Regions from separate parts of the Homo sapiens genome. Here region 2 is linked to region 1. Evidence: fine-mapped expression QTL. A gene starts in region 1. The other region holds a variant in brackets. All regions are shown on one strand. Distances are from middle to middle. Region 1 holds the start of SNAPC1 (small nuclear RNA activating complex polypeptide 1). Region 2 overlaps SNAPC1 (small nuclear RNA activating complex polypeptide 1).

The links.
Region 2: its variant is fine-mapped to the expression of SNAPC1 in whole blood (INTERVAL, PIP 0.96).

Annotation. Positions count from the first base shown.
Region 1 is chr14:61,759,545-61,764,076 of GRCh38, forward strand. It overlaps SNAPC1 (small nuclear RNA activating complex polypeptide 1), which reads left to right and starts at 2,876. Exons shown (of 10, transcript NM_003082.4): 1 at 2,876-3,044. The coding sequence starts at 2,917. RefSeq lists enhancers at 870-1,614, 1,615-2,358, 2,202-2,291, 2,359-3,102, 3,103-3,846.
Region 2 is chr14:61,785,800-61,789,799 of GRCh38, forward strand. All of the region lies in intron 8 of SNAPC1 (small nuclear RNA activating complex polypeptide 1), which reads left to right. Among named protein-coding and RNA genes, the nearest start is that of SYT16, 25 kb to the right of the region's middle. The variant A/ATATCT (reference allele first, on the strand shown) is at 2,268.

The sequences.
Region 1 (4,532 bases):
AAAATTATACATACGGGAAATACATATACATACATATGGTTATACATATGGAAAAAAGTGAAATAGGATCCTTATACCATACATAGAAATAAATTTTTAGATGGATGACAGTAAATTAAAAGTGAAAGGTAATACTTTCAGAGTTTCTGAATAAAATTGCAGCAGACATGTTGGCAGTCTGTTCTGGTCTGAATGTCTCCCAAAATCAATGTGTTGAAACTTAATTAACAATGTGATAGCATTAAGAGGTAGGGCCTTAGCAGGTAATTAAGTCATGAGGACTCATGAATGGGATTAGTGATTTTATAAAAGGGCTGGAGGGAACTAGCTAGGCCTCTTTTGTCCTTCCGCTATTATGCCATGTGAGGACACGGCAACAAGGTGCCATCTTGAAAGCAGAGAGCAGCCCTCACCAGGCACGGAATCTGCCAGCACCTTGATCTTAGATTTCCCAGCCTCCCAGAACTGTGAGAAATAAATTTCTGTTGTTTGTAAGCTACCTATTCTATGGTATTTTGTTATAGCAGCAGAAATGAGCTAATACGTGGTCCAACAAAGACGTGTGCACCTCTTCCAGCGATTGAAACTATTGTTGGGGAGAGGTTGCCTAATTAGTGATGACGTTTCTCAGCCACCTTTGCACCTGAATGGGTCCATGTGACTGAGTTCTGGCCAATGGAATGTGGACTGAAATGGTGTATAACAGTGCTTCTCAAATTATCTGTTGTAATGAACCATTTCCCAAATGGTTCCCCCACTCTATCATGGGGGAAATAATGCATTTTGGCTCACTGCAACCTCTGCCTCCCAGGTTCAAGTGGTTCTCCTGCCCCAGCCTCCCAAGTAGCTGGGATTACAGGCACACGCCACTACGCCTAGCTAATTTTTGTGTTTTTATTAGAGACGGGGTTTCACTATTTTGGTCACGCTGGTCTCGAACTCTTGACCTGGTGATCCACCCACCTCAGCCTCCCAAATTGCTGGGATTACAGGCGTGAGCCACTGCGCCCAGCCAGTTGCAATACCATTTTCATAAAACTCAAAACCAACCACAACTAAAAAATATACCGTTTAAATATACATACATATGTGATAAAATATATACATGAGAAAGAGAAACAAAATTCAAGGTAGTTATTTATTTATTTTTTGAGATTCGGTCTCACTCCGTAGCCCAGGATGGAGTGCAGTGGCACGATCTCGGCTCACCACTGCAACCTCTGTCTCCTGTAACCACCATCTCCCAGGCTCAAATGATCCTCCCACCTCAGCCTCCCGAGTAGCTGGGACTACAGGTGTGCACCACCATGCCCGGCTAATTTTCACCATGTTTCCCAGGCTGGTCTCCAACTCTTGTGCTTAAGCAATCCTCTTGCTTTTGTCTCCCAAAGTGTTGGGATTTCAGGCGTGAGCCACCGTGCCCAACCAGTAGCTGTGATTAAAGTAGGGTACAGTCAAAGGAATAGGTCAGAGGAGGAAATCGCAGATTGATGTGAAGGCGTTGGTAATGTTCTGGTTCCTACACAGGTGAAAGGTGTACAGGTGTTTAACTGCTATGCTTTTTATCTCACACATCGCATAAATTTTTCTGTGACATAAAATATTACATAACATTTAAAAAACAGGTCAAGAGGGCAGGGTGCAGTGGCTCACGTCTGTAATCCCAACACTTTGGGAGGCCGAGGGGAGCGGATCACCTGAGGTTAGCAGTTCGAGACCAGCCTGGCCAACATGGTGAAACCCTGTCTCTACTAAAAATACAAACAAAACAAAACAAAACAAAATCCGGTTGGAGTGGTGCATGCCTGTAATCCCAGCTACTCGGGAGGCTGAGGCAGGAGAATCGCTTGAACTCGGGAGGCGGAAGTTGCAGTGAACCGAGACCGCGCCACTGAACTCCGGCCTGGGCAACAAGAGCGAAACTCCGTCTCAAAACAAAAAACAAACAAATCCAAACAAACAAACAAACAAACAAAAACAGGTCAAGGATCAGAAAAGTAAAGTGAGTTGACACTCCATTTACACACAGAAAGCCCAATGTTTTTCTATTATATCAGGATACCTCTTCTAAAGAATGATAGCTTACCTTTCAATCAGAGAAATGATCTAAAGTTCAAAATGTTACTCCATAGCTAGCTCCTGGAGGAAGGAAGCTAGGTGGCAGCGTGTACACAAAAAGGCAATTCATCCAAATAATAATATAACAAGAATATAACAAGTAGGTATTTTCTGCTAAGTGCTATGTAGCACAGGGGTGAATGCGTGGCAGGGCAGGAGGAGGGCTGTTTACAAGAGGGTATGAAATGCAGCTCTTCTTTTCAAGAGTGGTTGCAGAATGCCAGGGCTACAAAGAGAGGGCCGCACATTAAGCATCGTATTATGTGGGTACAGAGTATTAGGGTTCTCGATGACCAGAAGGAGAATGAGTGCAGTTTGTTTCCTAGCAAGCCTTCTTTAGCTTCTCTTCCCAAGTGGGAGTGGGGTTGGGGTTGGGACTGTTCTTTCCTAGCTCAAAAGTTCACTTATGTCACACTAGGGTCAGTTTAAAGGAGAGTGCTAGTAAGGGTAAAGTCAAGTTACATAACCTAGCGGAAAATGAAGACCTAAAACCGCTCGTGAGCAAACACAACACTTTAGACGTAAACCTCTTCCAAAGAAGGGTGGATCTCAGCACTCTGGGTGAAAGCAATCTCAGCCAGTAAAACATCAGAACGCTTTCACGCACGCGCAGTAAGCACACGACCGGTGGCAAGAGCCCGGATAAAGGCGGAGCTAAAGGTGCCGGATAATGCATCACGGAGCGCGTGTGCGCACGCCGTAGGGGGCGGGCCGTTCGGGCTTGGTTTCCTGGGCGACCACCGCTGGCTAGTCCGTTAGAGGCGTGCGGGCTTCGGAGGCGTGCGGGCTTCGGGTGCCATGGGGACTCCTCCCGGCCTGCAGACCGACTGCGAGGCGCTGCTCAGCCGCTTCCAGGAGACGGACAGTGTACGCTTCGAGGACTTCACGGAGCTCTGGAGAAACATGAAGTTCGGGACTATCTTCTGGTGGGTGTTTCTTGTCCACCACCCGCCTCTCCCTGCCCGCAGGTGGTGTAGAAAGTTGCCTCCTTCCCGGCGATATTGCACTTGTGAAGGGCTGAGAAGAGCGGCAGTCACCGAAGGTTGCCTCCATGACTCCTGGACCTTCCCCTGTGCTCAGGCAACGCGCTTTCCCTGCTCTATTTCATTGTGCCCTGATGGTTGTTGCGGCCTCCTCCCAAATATGCGTCTCTGCCTGGCCTCCCTTCTAAACTCCTCTCTCCCATCTCCACCCTGAGCCAGGCCACTATCATTTGCCCTTCCCCAGTCTTGTTCTAGGACCTGATGTTTAAAAACACACAAGCAAAGACAAAACCCTTCAAGATTGAATTAATTTTTCCTCCAACAACCAAAGTTGTCTTTTTTTTTTTTTTTTTTTTTTTTTTTGAGACGGAGTCTCCTTTTGTCGCCCAGGCTGGAGTGCAATGGCGCGTTCGCGGCTCAGTGCAACCCTTCGCCTCTCAGGTTCAAGTGATTCTCTTGCCTCAACCTCCGGAGTAGCTGGGATTACAGGTGCCCGGCACCACGCCCGGTTAATTTTTTGTATTTTTAGTAGAGACGGGGTTTTACTATGTTGGCCAGACTGGCCTCGAACTCCTGATCTCGTGACCCGCCCGCCTCGGCCTCCCAAAGCGCTAGGATTACAGGAGTGAGCCACCGCGCCCGGCCCAAAAGTTGTTTTTCAAAAGTGCAAATTTGATTATGTCACTCCCCGACTTATTACTCTGTAGTGGTGCCCATTGCCTTTGGGATAACGCTTGAATTCTCTGACTTGCCAAGACCATTCCTCACTGGCCTTTGCCTATCTCTCCAGCTTCGCCTGCCAGTCCCCTCCATGCACTCACTTTCTTGCTCCAGCAGCTGCTTTTTTTTTTTTTTTTTTTTCTTTGGGCCCTCTACAGGCTTTTCCTAATCCTGGAGTTTCCACCGCAACTCTCTTGTTTTGTCCACCTTATTCTTCACTCAGGGTTAAGCTCAAATGACATCCTCGGGGGAAGTCTTTTTTGCTCTTCTAGACTGAGTACGCTGTTCATGTTTTTTCCCCGCATAGCACCCTGTTTTTATTTTATGTCACCGCTTTCCACATTTTGTTGTAATGGTATAGTTGAAAAGGCAGTGTGGGATTGTTAAGGGCATAGGTTATGGAACCCAATTGGCTGCATTTGATTGCAGGGTCCGCTATGACTTGGGGCAAGTTACTTGAGTTTCCATATCTGTAAAATAGAGGCAATGATAAACCTCATAGTAGTTGTGAAGATTAAATGAGCTGATATATCAGAAATACATTCTAAGTGCTCAATAAATGTTCATTATTATTATTTTTTTTTCTTGAGACATAGTCTTGCTCTGTCACCCAGGCTGGAGTGTAATGGTGCGATCTCCTATCACTGCAACCTCCACCTCCCGGGTTCAAGAGATTCTCCTGCCTCAGCCTCCCGAGTAGCTGGGACTACG
Region 2 (4,000 bases), 26 kb after region 1:
TGCATTTTCACATAAGCAATAGGGGAGAGGAAGCAATCAGATATGCATTTGTCTTAGGTGAGCCTCAGAGGGATCACTTTGAATAGAATGGGAGGCTGGTTTGCCCTAAGCAGTTCCAGCTTGACTTTTCCCTTTAGCTTAGTGATTTTGGGGTCCGAAGATTTATTTTCCTCTCACACTGCTAAAGAAATTAAATTCCCAGGCTTCTCTGGAAATTTTAGCAAACATTTAAGAAAGGAGTGATCTAGATTCTTTCAGAAAATGCAAGAGGGAACACTTTGCAGCTTACTGACATTGCAAGAAAGAACTAAAGACCAATATCCCTTATCTTATCCAAAAAAAAATTCAAAATGGATTATGGACCTAAATTTGAAACCTAAATTATAAAACTTGTGAAAAAATATGTAGGAGAAAAATGTTTGTGTTCTTGGGTTGGGCAAGATTTTTAAATACATGACACAATAACACGAGCAAATCATGAAACAAAAAAAAACTGATAAATTGGCATTCTCAAAGTTACAATTTTTGTCTTCAAAAGACACTGTTAAGAAGATGAGAAGATAAGCCACAGACTGGGAGAAAATTTTTGCAAACTACTACGCTGATAAAGGTCTTGTATCCAAAATAGTAATATTTAAAGAAGTCTAACTCAATAAATATACAGCCCACCCAATGAAGAAATGGCTAAAACATTTCACCAAAGAAAAGATATGGATGGCAAATAATCATATGAAAAGATGCTCTGCATCTTTAGTTACTAGAGAAATGTAAATTAAAACCACAGTGACACTCCACTAAACCCTGAATGGCAACAACAAAAAGACCCCACAAAGCAAAACAAAAATTGTGATGAAAAAAGCTGTTGAGGATTTGGAACAAGTGGAACCTGCATACTTTTCTGGTGTGAATCCAGAATGATGTGGTTACTTTAGAAAACCTGTAGTTTTTAAAAGGTAAACGTGTACTTACCATCCGACCCAGAAATACTATTCCTTGGTATTTACTCAAGAGAAATGAACACTTAATGTTCACACAGAAATGTGTATGCAAAAGTTTATGTGGCTTTATTCATAATTGCAAGAACTGCAAACAGCCTAAAAATCCTTCCACTGCTGATTGGATAAACTGTGGCATATCCATGCAATGAAATACAACCCAGCAATAAAAGAGCTATCATACATCTAACAACATAGATGAATCTGAATTCAGTGTGCTCTGTGAAAGAAGACAGACACAAAAGGCTATATACTCTGTGATTCTATTTATATGACATTCTGGAAGAGGCAAATCTGTAGGGACAGAAAACATATATTTGGTTGCTACGGACTTAGGGGTAGGGGAAGGTATTAAATGCCCAGTGGCACAGAGAAACTTTTGGGGTGATGGAAATCTATATTTTCGTTGCAGTGGTAGATTGCACAGCCGTGCATTTGTCCAAACTTCTCTGTATAGCAAAAATGGGTGAATTTTATTGTATGTTAATAATACTTCAATAAACCTGACTGATGGCCAAACACGAACAAAAAGAGAGGACATAAGGAAAAGATTGTTTAGTTTGATTATATTTCAAAAATTAACTTCTGGTAGATTAAAATGTTTTTTTTTTTTAAAGAAAATGTTCAGCTGAATTAAATTTAAAGGAGTTTAATTGAGCAGTGAACATTTCCAGTATCGCACAGCCCCTAGAATCACGGCAGATTCAGAGACTCCAGTGCAGCCACGTGGTGGAAGATGTATAGCCAATAAAAAGGAAATGAGGTACAGAAATCGGAAGTGAGGTACAGAACAGCTGGATTGGTTACAGCTCGGCATTTGCCTTATTTGAACACAGTTTGAAGACTCAGCAGTGTATGAATGGTTGAAGTACTGCCGCTGGGATTGGCCAAGTCTCAGCTATTGTTAAGGCACATACTCCTAAATTTGGTTTTCAGTCTTGTCTACCTATTAAGCTAGATTGCAGTTGGTCCACAAGGACTCAAATATAGAAGTACGGAGTCCTTCTCAGGCCATATTTAGTTCACTTTAACATAAGTACCAAAGATAGTTAGGTTTAGAAACCCTCACAAGCACTTTTTATTAATTGCCTTCATATAGGCACAGCAACGTGATGAGCTGGCCAAGCTGCTTTCTTGAAGACCTGAAAAAAAAATTTTTTAATGTGGTTGGGGAACAAAGGAGGAACAAGAACAAAATAGGAAAAGAAAGAAGTTAAATGAAATTAACTTTCATCTTGAATGTGTGACAGTTATAATTTATGATCACCAATC[A/ATATCT]TAATTAGTTGCTGAAAACAACTGTTTTGTAAATTCTGAAACTAACTGAAGGACAGGCTCTATAGTACATCTGAGATTTGTTAATGAATTTTCTCAGGGTGTTAGGGAGGATTTACCCATGAGAAAGAATAAAGTATTATAAAATGTGATCTGAATTCAGATCTCCATCATGGCTTAACTAATCCAGCTAAGGTATTGTAAATACTCTGAAGCAGAAGTAGTTACCTGAATAATAAAGACCCAAATGCTTACTTTGTAGTTTCTCATTAATCAAACGTTCATTTCCATACAGTGGAAAGGTGTTTTTGATTTTACAGTTTTTCAAACAGAGGAGCCTTCAGTTCCATAAAAGGCAAAAGATCTTACAAATCCATTTGCACATATGATACTATTAAAATTTCTAATTGTAAAAGAGCTTTTATAAATGAATAAGAAAAGGGCCACCACCCAGTAGAAAAATAGCTTAGGACATGAACAGGCAATAACAAATGCAGGCAGACAGTCAGTGCATATAGGAAATAATTGAATTTCATTTATAATTAAAGATATATAAATTAAAACATGATTTTTATATTATTTGATAAAGATTAAAGATAATACCCATTGATAATGAAAGTGTGAGGAAATAAAATCTCAGTTTAAGTGGGAGAGTAAATTGGCACATTCTTTTCATAGAGCAATTTAGAATCAGGTCAAAATTTTAAATGTACATGCTTTTTAGAATTGCTAGGAATTTATTCTGTACAAATCATAAATATAAAAGGAAATTCATTGCAGGATTATTTGAAATGGCAAACTGTAAACAACTCAAATGTATAATGGGTAAATAAAATTATTGTCAGTCCATACAAAGGAATACTTTGCAGTTACTAAAAAGCTAGGGAGGCTGGGCACGGTGGCTGACGCCTGTAGTCCCAGCACTTTGGGAGGCCGAGGCAGGCAGATCACAAGGTCAGGAGTTCAAAACCAGCCTGGCCAATATGGTGAAACCCCACCTCTACTGAAAATACAAAAATTAGCTGGGTGTGGTGGCGGGTGCCTGTAGTCCCAGCTACTTGGGAGTCTGAGGCAGGAGAATCACTTGAACCCAGGAGACGGAGGTTGCAGTGAGCCAAGATAGCGCCACCGCTCTTCAGCCTGGGTGACAGAGCAAGACTCCATCTCAAAAAAAAAAAAAAAAGGCTAGGGAAAGCTCTGTATTATGAAAGTATATCCAAAATATATCGACTAAAAATAAAACACAACATTATCTATACATTTCATAGTGAAAAGGCTTTTTAAAAAAGTATGATCTCGTTTCTATTAATAAAAAAATATACATACATACACACATGAACATAATATATAGCACTGAAGAAATCTAGATGTGTATGAAGTATTACCAGTGGTTAATTTTCAAGGATAGTATAATGAGAAACTACCCATAAATGTCTGTAACGTTTGGATTTTGTATAACCAAGTGTTACTTTAGTAATCAGTAGAAATCCAAAGACCTTTTTACAAATAAGGTAAACATAATTTCATAGACTCAGACAAGTAGAGGGGCTGGTGTGAAAAAGGCAAAGTAGCTGGGAAGTATAGAGTGAGGGGTCCATTTAGGCTGGATTGTAAAGGGGATATGTTGGGGAGTTAAATGTTAAAAGTGCTGGAAAAATATGTTGAGGATTGTATTGTGACCAGGCCTTAAATGTGGAATCAAGAAGTTTACACTTCAATTGGTAGGCAGAGGGGGA